Homo sapiens: one gene and its partner. The protein of the gene in region 2 interacts with the protein of the main gene of each other region in a biochemical or structural test. Each region holds a gene or a part of one and is shown on either strand. Other genes may lie near its edges. The genes, in order: SASH1 and SUV39H2.

Evidence for each region.
Region 1: the proteins of SUV39H2 (region 2) and SASH1 are reported together in a solved structure, tested with the Homo sapiens proteins (one study listed by BioGRID).

What each region holds. Positions count from the first base shown.
Region 1 is NC_000006.12:148,338,517-148,345,864, reverse strand, and holds the start of SASH1 (SAM and SH3 domain-containing protein 1), read right to left. Parts: upstream 3,028-7,348; 5' UTR 2,798-3,027; coding exon 2,642-2,797; intron 1-2,641. UniProt on the Homo sapiens protein: Is a positive regulator of NF-kappa-B signaling downstream of TLR4 activation. It acts as a scaffold molecule to assemble a molecular complex that includes TRAF6, MAP3K7, CHUK and IKBKB, thereby facilitating NF-kappa-B signaling activation.
Region 2 is NC_000010.11:14,895,586-14,902,865, forward strand, and holds part of SUV39H2 (histone-lysine N-methyltransferase SUV39H2), read left to right. Parts: intron 1-1,260; coding exon 1,261-1,932; exon of another isoform or gene 1,933-3,664; coding exon of another isoform or gene 3,665-3,727; intron 3,728-3,953; coding exon 3,954-4,100; intron 4,101-5,547; coding exon 5,548-5,677; intron 5,678-6,820; coding exon 6,821-6,927; 3' UTR 6,928-7,280. UniProt on the Homo sapiens protein: Histone methyltransferase that specifically trimethylates 'Lys-9' of histone H3 using monomethylated H3 'Lys-9' as substrate.

The DNA of each region.
Region 1 (7,348 bases), on a different chromosome or scaffold from region 2:
GGAGCGTCATGACATCAGGATCCCTACTGGAGGGGCCAGCGACCAGGGACAAGTCTAACATTGTCACTAACATGGTATGTGCCATTGGCCAAGTCACTTCACCTGTCTAGATTGATAGATGATTGCAAAATCTTATATTTTAAATAAAAAAGGAAGGAAATGGTGTCTCTTGTTTCAGTGAGAATAAAGTCAACTGTTAATTTTGTGTCTTGATGTATTTCCCCGAAGACTCAGTTTGTATAAACACTTGGATGACAGCTTTCCCTCCCTTTTAGCCTGGTGTCTCCCTGCAAGACATCTACAAAGGAGCAGTAAGCCATGTCTTCCTCTGAATTTTACTAAGGAACAATCTCCATGCCTGTTTACCCCAGATAAACAAGAGGAAAACATGAGCAAACACAACCTGTCTGGGACAGGCTTTACGTTCTTCCCAGCCTGATCCTGAATGATTAGCTGAAGTACATATTTTCTTTGCTCCTGCATCTGCCCTTTCAATAGCAGGTTTGAGCTTCTGAAGCCCCACCCCATCTTTTAACTCAGCCAAAGAACACTCCACTACAACTGACCCAACAGTGCTGGAATCTGTCAGGGAAGGGAAAGCAAATCTGCAGAAAATGCCACTGGCCAACCCTCTTCCCCAAAAGAACCCTCAGCCCAAGTTTCATTTAAACAGGCCCCCAATCCTCCCCGCCCCCAGCCCAACGCCCTAGAGTAAGGGATACAATGGGATATTATCAAACCAATTTCCTCAGTGACTGAAAACTTAGAACTGGATCTAGACAAGAAATAACAGGATAACTTAAAAACAGTCTATCGGGCGCGGTGGCTCACGCCTGTAATCCCAGCACTTTGGGAGGCCGAGGTGGGCAGATCACAAGGTCAGGAGTTCGAGACCAGCCTGGCTAACATGGTGAAACCCCGTCTCTACTAAAAATACAAAAATCAGCCGGGTGTGGTGTTGCGCGCCTGTAATCCCAGCTACTCAGGAGGCTGAGGCAGGAAAATTGCTTGAACTCAGGAGGCGGAGGTTGCAGTGAGCTGAGCTCGTGCCACTGCACCCCAGCCTGGGCGACGGAGCAAGACTTCGTCTCAAAAAAAAAAAAAAAAAAGAAAAGAAAAAGTTTATCACAACTTTAAAATGTCCATTAGGTTTTCTGGAACTTCAGTGAAGGATCATATTCATCTGTATACTTCAGAAAATGCAAAAACAAAACCTTTTAAATCTAAAATATATATTAGATTTAGGTATATTATATACATGTGCTATATATAGTATGTAAATATACATTGCATGCATATTTATATACATTTTTCAATACTGGAGAGTGACAAGAGCAGATAGAAATCTTTAACCAACGCTCGCTGGTTCTCTGTATAGTAAGAATCATAAATACCAATGGTCACCTGAAAATGGAGTAACTGGGCTTTTAGGATGTCCAGAAGGAAGAGACAGGAGACTTTGCAGGAAACAAATAAAACCTGAAAGACAGCTACACTTATTGAGCCTCTACTATATGCTATACAGTCTGCTGAGTACTTGATACACACATCAACCCAGCTAAATCTCAGAAACCCCAAGAAGCAAGTCTTCTTTTCTTCAATTTTCAGGTGATGAAACTGAGGATCAGAGAGGTTGAATGACTTGGCCAAGATCATGTAAACAGTCAATTGGAGAGCTGGCATTTGACCTAGTATAACTTACTTTGAAGCCCAAGAGTTTAATCACTGTGCTAAAAACTGTACACGGTTTATCATTCCCAAAGAAGAACTTTCACTCCATCTCCTCCCACTCAAAAAATATAAGATCTCAAAGCAAATCTAGAGACTTTTCTGATAATCTGCACATCTGGCCATTCCAAGTCTTTAAACTAAAGTTGTCTTTTATGTATGGATTAAGATGTCTGACTGTAATAAACCTCGCCCATCTGATTCCAGTCTACCTGCCTAACTACAGCTCCACCAAAGCAAATCTATTACTTCCCCAAGGTATTCAACCCTGAGCAGGTTAAAACTTCACCCTCCATACAGAAGAACTGCTTCCCAGAGACTATGCCAAATCCAGGGGCGCTTTTAGTCACTGGACATTTCAAAATACATGACAGCACAGATTTAGCAAAATAAGTCCTATTGTTTTAGCCCCAAACATATAAAACAAATATCCTGTAACTCCACAAATTGAAAAACTGCAAAAAAAAGTAGGCAAACATTTTGGCAGTTCTGAGTAAGGAAATGTTTGTTTTCCCTCTTGTGGTCACACAACAAATGGTGAAGAGATAAACATCAGTAACATCAGCCTTTTCCCTAATCCAGCACCAACCAAATATTTATTTACATCTACTTTTTGAAGGCCTCTTTCTCGCCTTTTCCACACCAACATGTCAGCAGGTGTCCCAGATTAAACTGTTGAATATCATACCCGATTGTTTAAAAAACACCTTTTGACGGGACCTGTGGCTGGTTATTTTTTAATTAGGGTTTGAAATCCTATACTGTGTGTATTTAGCCCCCTAAGAACTAGAGCCAGAGAAGGACGCCTCTGCGGAGTGGGTTGCCCAGTGGGTGGGCGAGAAGGGAGCCCCCGGTTTCAGAGGGGCTGCTGCGAACTGTACTTCCTGCGCCGCCCCCTCCCCAGGTAACTTACCAGGATACCCATCACGTCGGTCCAGAGTCGGGAGAACGCCTCGGATGTGCCAGCACCCGGCTTGGGCTCCGGTTCCGGCTCCGGCGCGGGCTCGGGCTCCGGCTCGGGCTCGGGCTCAGGCTCCGGCCCCGGGCCAGCTGCTCCCGCGTCCTCCATGGCCGTGTCCCGCGCGCGGGCCGTGCGTCCCAGTCCCCGCGGCGCCCTCGCCCCGCACCCGCGCGCAGCCTGCCCGGATGCCGGGTCCCCGCCCGCGGCGTCACCGAGCCGCGCCCCCGCGCTGCATGCCCCGGCGGCCCCGGCCACCCCGCGGGGGCCCTTCGCAGGCGCCCGCACCTCGGGTCTAGGTGGCCACGGGCTGCGCGACTGACAACTCCAGAAACTTTCCCACCCCGCTCGGCGCAGCAACAGGGTAGCAGGAGGCAAAGTCCGCACCACTGAGTTGTACGGCGGGGAATTCGCTCGGCCCAGAAGCAATTAAACCCACTGCAAAGGCGTTTCTTCCTGTGACGGGAACCAACTAACTAAGGCACGCGACTCGTTCCTTCTAGCAAGTCTTGGCAGGACCCGGCAGGGGTGGCCGCGGAGCCTCTAGATCTTGGAGGGAGCTCCCCGGGACCCCTCTCTTCAAAATGAGCTCTTCCAGCTCCACATGACTCTCTCCCTCGAGGCTAAAGAAAGCGTTTAGCAACAAAAGGTGCTCTGATGTCAGGCTCTTTGCATGGAAATGAGCCTCGGACAGGAGAACAAATCGCCTGTTGAAAGAGCAGCCGCGCCGCGGTCTCCGGCCCGCACAAGTTTCCAATCACGCTATTCACGGAAACGCTTTTGGTAACGGAAACCCGAGAAAGTTAATCTTTAAGCGACTCCCGCCCAAAGGCTTCACAAGTAGTCCGTGTCGCTACAATGCATACCTCGCCCCTCGTGAAGTCAAGCGACCCAAGGAATTACAAATCCTGCCTCTGCCAGCCAAGACTTCTCTGCAAAACAAGTGTGAAAGCTTGGGCACGAGCCATTGTTTGGATCATTTTTTATGAGTGGGGGCATTTTGGCTCCTGAATGCCCACAATGCCATGCATTGCTAGGGCTTTCGGCTAATTAAGGGAAATGCGCTTTGGGTTTTAATTATTCCTTTACATTAGGGACACAGGGAAGGGCTATTTTCGAAACTAAATTCAAATGATTGTGTAGCCAGTCAGCCTACACACACTTGGGGCCCTGTGTGTGTTTTTCCAAGGGGAAGCCCCAGGACAGATTTATTTTATAAGGGAACTAGCCCTGGAGAGGTGATTTTTCCCTTTTGTGATTCTATCTTTCAAGACTACTCAGAGTTTTCCTTGGAAGGTGACAATGCACGTCACATTCGATTTGGTGATTGATCACTTTTGAAACAGTTAAGAAACCACATGGAGTTTGCTCCTCTGTTAGGGCCTTGTGGTTTAAAAGGAAAAAAAAAAGTGAGATGCCCCAGGGAGAGAGCCCTGCTTGTTTTGAGGCCTCTCCTGTTTCTTGTTGATTGTGGGGTTTTTTTTGTTTGTTTGTTTGTTTTGTTTTGTTTTGTTTTGTTTTCCTTCTGAGTCCACTTGAAAGGGGATAAGAGCATGTCCTTGAATTCCCCTTGTTCAAGTATTAAGTGCTGTGAGCACCAATCAATGCAATGGGTGAATAGTCCTTACAGGAAAGTTCAAAATGTAAAAACATTTTCAAAAGTAACTAAATTTATAAACACAATCCCTGATAATTTTTGTGTGTTTTTGGCGGGTGCGGGGCTGGCGCCTGTAATCCCAGCACTTTGGGAGGCTGAGGCGGGCGAATCACTTGAGGCCAGGATTTTGAGAACAGCCTGGTCAACACAGCAAAACCCTGTCTCTACTAAAAATACAAAAAAAAAAAAAACAAAAAAAAAAAACAAAACATAGCAAGAGTGTTGGAACATGCCTGTAATCCCAGCTACTCAGGAGGCTGAGGCAGGAGAATAGCTTGAACCCAGGAGGCGAAGGTTACAGTGAGGTCCTGCTGCTGCACTCCAGCCTGGGTGACAGAGGAAGACTCTCTGTCTCCAAAGAAAAAAAAAGTATGCTGAAAAATTTTTTTAGAGACAAGGTCCTGCTCTCTCACCCCGGCAGTGCAGTGCTGCAATCGTAGCTCACTGCGGCCTTGAACTCCTGGGCTCAAGCAATCCTCCTGCCTCAACCACCTGAGTAGCAGGGACTACAGGCACACCGCTGCACCAGACTAATTTTTTAAATTTTTTATAGAGACATGATCTCTTGCTGTTGCCCAAGGTGGTCTCAAACTCCTGGACTCAAGGGATCCTCCCTCCTTGGTCTCCTCAAGTGCTGGGATTATAGGCATGAGCCACTGCGCACAGTCTCTGACGATAATGTTTGTGAAAGGAAACCAAAAGAATTATTAAATTTCTCCTTAATAGCATTGAGGCATTGTGTTGAAGTAGAAAGAGCACTGAACTATGAGTCAGTACAGCCAGGTCTTGTGCTTTCCTAGGCTGATGCCGGAGTTAGGCCAGATGGGTTTTCAAGGCTCCCTCGTGCTCTGTGATACTTTGAATAAAAATAAATTCAGTTAAGGCTGATGAGGTTTTTTTAATTGTCATTTCTATAAATAGATAAATATAAGTAAATGATAGGAAAAGATAAATAGCCTTTACAGTTGACTGTATTGGTATATTTAAGAATTTGAATTTATTCACCACGTGATACTTTTTTTTTTTTTTTTGAGACAGAGTCTTGCTCTGTCACCCTGTCGCCCAGGCTGGAGTGCAGTGGCACCATCTTGGTTCACTGCAACCTCTGCCTCCCAGGTTCAAGCGATTCTCCTGCATCAGCCTCCTGAGTAGCTGGGATTACAGGCATGCACCACCACGCCTGGCTAATTTTTGTATTTTTAGTAGAGACGGGGTTTCACCATATTGGTCAGGCTGGTCTCGAACTCCTGACCTCATGATCCACCCGCCTCAGCCTCCCAAAGTGCTGGGATTACAGGCATGAGCCACCGTGCCTGGCCTGGTACTTTCTTAAATTTAAGAAGATGCAGAGGACTGTGCTGCTTCCAAGGGGCAGCCTGTTCTCTACATAAACACTTTCCAGCAAATAACTCAGCAAGGAGCCAGGCAAGCCGGGCAGTTGGGGCTGGGGTTAGGATGAAGCCTGACTCTCCAGCACCAATCCAGAATCATTTTCTTCTTGACTCATCAGATGACCTGGGGCAAAGCATTTGACCTGGTGCTAGTTTCCCCATCCAAGATGAGGCAAGGCCATACTAATGGCCACCTGCTTCTTCACAGGTTATAGTATGTTTCAGGGTCATCTAAAGACACGTACAGTTTAGTGACAACACATACCCGCATCAGTGTAATTAAACGGGCCGGGCATGGTGGCTCATGCCTGTAATCTCAGCACTTTGGGAGACTGAGGCAGGCACATCACTTGAGGCCAGGAGTTCGAGACCAGCCTGGCCAACATGACAAAACCCCATCTCTACTAAAAATATAAAACTTAGCCAGGCATGGTGGCACACACCTGTAGTCCCAGCTACTTGGGAGGCTGAGACAGGAGAATCGCTTAAACCTGGGAAGTGGAGGTTGCAGTGAGCCACTGCACTCAGCCTGGACGACAGAGCGAGACTCCATCTCAAAAAATACATCTATATAGATATTTATATAGATATCTATATTTATAATTATATATCTATATATATACACACACATATAATTAAACCTTAGCCAGCATTTTGGCACTTATAGAAATCAACCTATTCTAGATATTTAAGCTGTTTTTCCTGGTGCTTCTTAATCAATGGATAGGGAAATGAGATAATGTTTTGGGAGAAATGTTGATGCCTATACATAGAATGTGAAATTTGAGGCCAGGCATGGTTACTCATTCCTGTAATCCCAGCACTTTGGGAGGCCGAGGCAGAAGGATCATCTGAGGTCAGCAGTTTGAGACCATCCTGGCCAACATGGTGAAACCTCGTCTCTACTAGAAATACAAAAATTAGCTGGGCATGGCAGCATGTGGCCTGTAGTCCCAGCTACTTTCTACTTATCAATTTCCATGTGTTAACTCAACATGATCTGATTACCACTCCCAAGATTGACGACTCTTTTCTCTCTTAGTTAATGTCACTTGTCACTCCTTTCTTCTAAAATTTCCTTCAGGGGCTTTTTATCTCTCTCTCTCTTTTTTTTTTTTTTTTTTTTAAAGACAGAGTCTCGCTCATTGCCCAGGCTGGAGTGCAGTGGCCCGATTTCGGCTCACTGCAATCTCCCCCTCCTGGGTTCAAGCAATTCTCCTGCCTCATCCTCCCAAGTAGCTGGGACTACAGGAGCCTGCCACCACGCCCGGCTAATTTTTGGATTTTTAGTAGAAATGGGGTTTCACCATGTTGGCCAGGCTGGCCTCAAACTCCTGACCTCAGGTGATCCACCTGCCTCGGCCTCCCAAAGTGCTGGGATTACAGAGATGAGCCAAGGCTCCTGGCCCTTCAGGGGCTTTTTAACAAAGTTGTCCTTTCCTTATAAAGAAATCACCATCATCATCATCATCACAACTTCAGAGTCATATAGGATATCATTTACCAAGAACGTTTTATATTAGAATTCTACCTCATGGAAATGGAAAAGGGCCTCGAAAAAGATCTAGGTCAAATCCTTCATTTTACAGATGAGGAAGTAGGCTCCAGAGAACT
Region 2 (7,280 bases):
GCATCGTGGCCAACAACAGTCTGAGGGATAGATTAGAATAGTTGCTCTTAGGTGGCTTGAGTGCCTGCTACCTAATCCAGTCATGGGTGAGTCTAAATAAAATCAGCATTCTCTAGAAGAGAGCTGTCCAATAGAAATGTAATGCAAGCTGCAGATGCCATTCAACATCTACTAACCACATTGAACAAAGTAAAAAGAAACAGCTGAAATTGCTTTCAAGAATGTATTTGATCCAATATATCCAAAATATTATTTCAACCTGTAATAGTTTTAAGTTACTTAGTGTTCTTTTTTTTGTATGATACAAAGTCTTCAAAATTCAGTGTGGGTTTTTTTTTTTTGCTTTTTTTTTTGTTTGTTTGTTTTGTTTGTTTGAGACTGAGTCTCGCACTCTGTCGCCCACGCTGGAGTGCAGTGGTGCAATCTTGGCTCACTGCAACCTCTGCCTCCCAGTTTCAAGCGATTCTCATGCCTCACCCTCCCTAGTACTGGCATTACAGGCGTGCACCACCACACCCAGCTAATTTTTGTGTTTTTAGTAAAGATGGGGTTTTCCCATGTTGCCCAGGCTGGTCTCGAACTCCTGGGCTCAAGCGATCCACCCACCTTGGCCTCCCAAAATGCTGGGATTACAGGCATGAGCCACCGTGCCCAGCCTCAGTGTGTATTATATTTTAAGCATATCTCAATTCAGATTGGCCACATTTCAAGTTTTCAGTAGCTGTATGTGGCTCGTAATAACCGTATTGGATAGTTCATCTCTAGAACATCTAGAGAATGTGTGCCCATGATGTTGAGAAATGAGTTCCCTTGTGTCTGGTGTTTGATATTAAGTTATGGACGTTAAGAATGCCTGAATCTATTGCTGGCCAAGTAAGCCACTAACCTAGGTCATAAAGAGTTAGCTTTGGGACCATTTATTTCCATGATCAAAATAAATACATCTGGGTTTAACCTGAATCACCATTTAGTAACATAGTCATCAGTTTCAGTACCTTTGTCTTTTTCCAGGTAAAACTCTTTAGCCTCTTATCAAACATGTTATGCCACATCTAAATTCCATATTTTATGTAATATAAGGAAAAATAGTTTTATTTGTATGATTTATACTTCATGTGTTAGGAACCTGTGACTACATGTTCTGAACTGTTAGTAAGAAAAATGGTATTGGATACCTTACTCTTTAAGATTTTTAATTATTTTTGGTAAAACTGGGAAATAGCCGTCTGATTTGCATTTTATTTTCTTTTGTATTTTAAGGATATGGAATATTATCTTGTAAAATGGAAAGGATGGCCAGATTCTACAAATACTTGGGAACCTTTGCAAAATCTGAAGTGCCCGTTACTGCTTCAGCAATTCTCTAATGACAAGCATAATTATTTATCTCAGGTAAAGAAAGGCAAAGCAATAACTCCAAAAGACAATAACAAAACTTTGAAACCTGCCATTGCTGAGTACATTGTGAAGAAGGCTAAACAAAGGATAGCTCTGCAGAGATGGCAAGATGAACTCAACAGAAGAAAGAATCATAAAGGAATGATATTTGTTGAAAATACTGTTGATTTAGAGGGCCCACCTTCAGACTTCTATTACATTAACGAATACAAACCAGCTCCTGGAATCAGCTTAGTCAATGAAGCTACCTTTGGTTGTTCATGCACAGATTGCTTCTTTCAAAAATGTTGTCCTGCTGAAGCTGGAGTTCTTTTGGCTTATAATAAAAACCAACAAATTAAAATCCCACCTGGTACTCCCATCTATGAATGCAACTCAAGGTGTCAGTGTGGTCCTGATTGTCCCAATAGGATTGTACAAAAAGGCACACAGTATTCGCTTTGCATCTTTCGAACTAGCAATGGACGTGGCTGGGGTGTAAAGACCCTTGTGAAGATTAAAAGAATGAGTTTTGTCATGGAATATGTTGGAGAGGTATGTTTCATTTGCCACGTAGTAAATGATGGACATGCAAGGTTTATACTTTTGGAAAATTACCTTTTTATCTCTTTAAGAGATACTTGGTACATTTTGATATTTTCATTTGCAGATATGTAGAAATTTATTCAGATTTAGGAGAAGAGTTCACTGGCATATTTAGAAATAAAAAACTTTTATATGAATAAAAAATATACGTTAAAACAAATTGATATAGTCATCTTTCAACAAATACACATTCCTACTAGTCAAACCTAGGATTTGTAAAATTTAAAATATGACAACTGTTTTTACCCAAAAGTCCTAAGAAGAAACTCAGATGTAACACATGCTGCTTTGAAACTTGAAAGTTTTAATTTACTTCATCTATTTGACCAAATATGATTAAATGTAGTTGGCAGAACTCTATTTTGGATCAACATGAAAGATACTATATTTATGAGTTTTGTAAAATATACACAAGCATTTATTGCATCCATAATCTGTAACTTACTTTTGAACTGTGAAGACCATTCTCAAAACTACCATACAAATACTAGCAAATTTATTTGTATACAAATCATATATATGTATATATATATATAAATGTAAAAAGTATTTGCCGTGTGTCACATACTATTCTAAGCACTTGATGTATTAATTCACTAATCCTCTCCAAAACTCAGTGAGGTAGTACTGTTTCTTTTTTTTTTTTTTTTTTTTTTTTTTTTGAGAAGTAGTACTGTTATGTCCATTATTGTAGAGAAATTGAGTACCTTGCCCAAGGTCACACAGGTCACATAGTAATAAGAACCGAGATTCAAAGCTCTAAAATCAGTAGTCTTCACCATGGCACCACACTGCTTCAAACTGAAGGGTAGGTTGAGCTGTGACTAGAAAGACACAAGCATGGCTACATATCTGGAGTTGTCAACTCTGGATTTTTTAGTTGGAATTGGGTCACCTATAATTATCTGTATTCATCTATAATTCTGAAACTAAATTAGATGGCTGTTTTGATTCTTACACTTTTAGACAGTGGTAGATTATTATAAATTATTCAGTATACAAGATCTTGTATAATCAAATTACTCTTTTTGTTAACCAAAATTTTTTAAGTTGCATTCTTAATGAGTGCAGCAGCCAAATTTGGTTGGTAACATAAAGTACTTTAGACACTTTTGGTTTCTTAAGCCGAGCGTGTCATAAAACTTGTGTTCTTAAGAGCAGAACTGTAGATGACGATCTTAGACTTACAGAATTGCATGAAAATAACATATTCTACAAAAACAAAACCTTCCATTCCAAAGTTAACATAGCTTCTCCCCTGTATTTTTAACAATTTTCCATTTGTAACTGCATATATATAAGTTATAGGAAAAATGTGCCTGGATCATATTTAGAGCATATACTTGCAGATTTAGTCCTTAACATTCAGTTGTGTCCTGTAGAGAGCTATAGTTGTATAGCTTTTTGAACATCCTAATTATAATGAAAGTAATGCAGTGTTCCAATGTACTGCTCAAATCCTGTTTAAAAAGTCATAAATCAACCAGTTACAGTTAATCCCAGCACTTGGGGAGGTCAAGGCTGGAGGCTCACTTGAGCCCAGGAGTTCCAGACCAGTGTGGGCAACATAGTGAGACCCCACATCTCTATAAAAACTAAATCATTAGCTGGGCATGGCGGTATGCACCTGTGATCCAGCTAGTCAGGAGGCTGAGGCAGGAAGATCGCTTGATCCCAGGAGTTAAAGGATACAGGGAGTCATGATGGCACCACCGCATTCTAGCCTGAGTGACAGAGTGAGACCCTGTTTAAAAAAAAAAGGTCATCAGTCTTTTGCATTATCATTTTTCTTCCCCTCATTTTCCCACCTCTTTGCATCTGAGTCTTAGTTTGTGTGAATGTTTGCTTTGATGACACCTGAATTTCTTACTTTTTAAATATTTGTAGGTATTCGCATATTAGTAGATAGGTAGATGAATGCTTCTTTGGTTCAGTAGCTACGTAATATACTTACAGTTTTTTCTGTTTAGGTAATCACAAGTGAAGAAGCTGAAAGACGAGGACAGTTCTATGACAACAAGGGAATCACGTATCTCTTTGATCTGGACTATGAGTCTGATGAATTCACAGTGGATGCGGCTCGATACGGCAATGTGTCTCATTTTGTGAATCACAGCGTAAGAAGACATACGTAAATTTTAGACACGACTAACAATTCAACCTAGTACTAGTTTCCATAGCTAAAGAATAATTCCCTTTAAACTACATATCCTTTTAACATTTCCAAAATATGTATTTTATAAGGAGGGCAGCTTCTGTTAAGTTATGGTATTATTGCTGTATTAGGAAAATTAAACATTGAGGTGCCTACCAAATATTAATAGGGTGTATTTTACAAGAGTCTTTACATATGTTACTTCATTTAAACTTTCTAGTAACTTTGTACGGTAGGTATTACTTTCATATTACAATGAGCAGAGCAATTAAGAGGTAAAATGTCCAAGAATTACACAGAACTGTATCTTAATGGAAGTTAACACGACTACATTTTAGGATGTACAACTGAAGGTAAATGTATTTTCTTAAAATGTAAACATGTTAACTTTTTATAAAATTTAAAGATTTGTAGAGTATTTATGTAGGGCTATTTTTCTAAATTATAAATTAGTATTCTTCCTTACCTTTTAATGTCTGAAAGCTCTTAGAATACAGCTGGCACTTAACTGCAGAATTCTGGACTCTAAATAATTTCCAAAAATTAGGGAAGTTAATAATTTTGGGTTACCTACTAAGTAGCAAGTGGACAGTAAAACATTAGGCTTGTTAGGGTGACATTATCTGCATTTTGTGGATAATAAGGACAGTGTGTGCCACAAAGTTATATAGCTGAACATATAAAGGAAGTAGACCATGTTAAACTTCTGATGGATTTCATAGTAAGAAATTGGTGTATGATTAGCAGAGAGCTTCTGGGCCCTTGTTTGTTGATTAAACATTGAAGAATTTTTTTCTTAATGATAAATTCGAGATACTCTCAAAATAGAGATATTCTATCCAGGGCCATCAAACAGTTTTGATTCCTTAGTATGACTCACTACATCTTTTTTCTTGCATATTCCGTAAGTTTACTGTAGTATTCTCAAAACATTGAAGAGTTTGGACCAAAAATTCAAGCAGTGAAACTCCATGCAGTGTAAAATTTGAGTTCTGTAGTGCAGATTTGATTTTTTAAACACAGTTGTTCTAGTTATTTTAAAGTGTATGCCTTACTGAAATAGTTACCAGTGAAATAATAATGTTATCTGGGATTTGTATTGAAATTCTCCAGGAAAAAAAAAAGTTGGGACTAGAGGAATAAGATTGGCAAGCATGTTACTAATTGTTGAAGCTGTATAGTGGATACATAGGGATTTCTTATTTTCTCTATTTTATACTTGTCTGAAGTTTTTATAAGGGAAAAAAATCTTTTTAAATGTGCATGCCTCAAAGACCTCTAAGCAATAAGCAACTTAATTTCCAGTGGAACTTAAACTAAATCTCTAGGAAAGTAAACATTTTATATGGCATGTAGAAGGGCTTGTTTACACCGTTTGTACTTAAATGGGTTCTAATGTTCCTTTTTAGTGTGACCCAAATCTTCAGGTGTTCAATGTTTTCATTGATAACCTCGATACTCGTCTTCCCCGAATAGCATTGTTTTCCACAAGAACCATAAATGCTGGAGAAGAGCTGACTTTTGATTATCAAATGAAAGGTATGCTTTTCAAGTACAGTTTCATTGGTGTCAGTTTCAATATGAAGAATCAAATCAGACTAGGAACAGACCTTAGATATTTGAACCAAACCTAATACTAAAGATGAAAAGTTGAGGCACTAAGTTTGTCATCCTAAGGTACAAAGCTAATCCAACAGCTAATACTAGAACCCAGGTCTGCCTGAGCTTCAGCTGAGGAATGGTTCTACATCGTAAATTTTCAGAACTTCCATTTTGGAAACTGATTTATTTATTATAGCATCTTAATACTGTACTACTTGTCTTTTTTTTTTTTTTTAAATTGTGGGCTAAGCATGCTGGCTCCTGCCTGTAATCCCAGCACTCTGGGCTTGAGCCCAGGAATTCAAGACCAGCCTGGGCAACATGGTGAAACTCTGTCTCTACAAAATATGAAAAAACTAGCCGGGCGTGGTGGCGTGTGCCTGTAGTCCCAGCTACTCGGGAGGCTGAGGTGGGAGGATGGCTTGAGACAGGGAGGTTGGGGCTACAGTTGAGCTGTGAATAGCACCACTGCACTCCAGCCTGGACGACAGAGACCCTGTCTGAAAAAAAAAACTATAAGCCTACATTTTTGAATTTTTACTGAGAGATGTATATTCAAAAGATTGAAAATATTTAAATCACATACAAATTTATTCTATTCCTACTTGAACCTGGCTTTTAAAAAGAACATTTAATTCTATTTGCTTTATTGTGACAATATAAATGTTTTCTTTCCTTTAAGAATGATGGCCTTTACATATTGTCATTGCTTAACCTCTTACATACTGTGCTTTTATATACGGTGTGAAATGAATGTGTATTAGATATTCCCAGTAAGTTTCATCATTTCAGAAATCCTTTCTGACAAATATGGGCTAATAACATAAAGTTTACCTATTATTAACCCACACCATCCTTTCAAGACAATTCATTATGATTTGACGCTGAATATTAACATTTATTTGTAAATATTTCAAAGGGAACTAACTACATTTCCTTGGGAGTTAACTTACTCTAAGGGTCTTGACCATGTAAGTACCCTCTATCACTGATAATAAAGCTAATATAATAGAAAATTTGAAATTTATTCTAAATTGTCTTAACTCTCTTTCTCCTATATTTCTTTTTCTGTGTCTTCAGGTTCTGGAGATATATCTTCAGATTCTATTGACCACAGCCCAGCCAAAAAGAGGGTCAGAACAGTATGTAAATGTGGAGCTGTGACTTGCAGAGGTTACCTCAACTGAACTTTTTCAGGAAATAGAGCTGATGATTATAATATTTTTTTCCTAATGTTAACATTTTTAAAAATACATATTTGGGACTCTTATTATCAAGGTTCTACCTATGTTAATTTACAATTCATGTTTCAAGACATTTGCCAAATGTATTACCGATGCCTCTGAAAAGGGGGTCACTGGGTCTCATAGACTGATATGAAGTCGACATATTTATAGTGCTTAGAGACCAAACTAATGGAAGGCAGACTATTTACAGCTTAGTATATGTGTACTTAAGTCTATGTGAACAGAGAAATGCCTCCCGTAGTGTTTGAAAGCGTTAAGCTGATAATGTAATTAACAACTGCTGAGAGATCAAA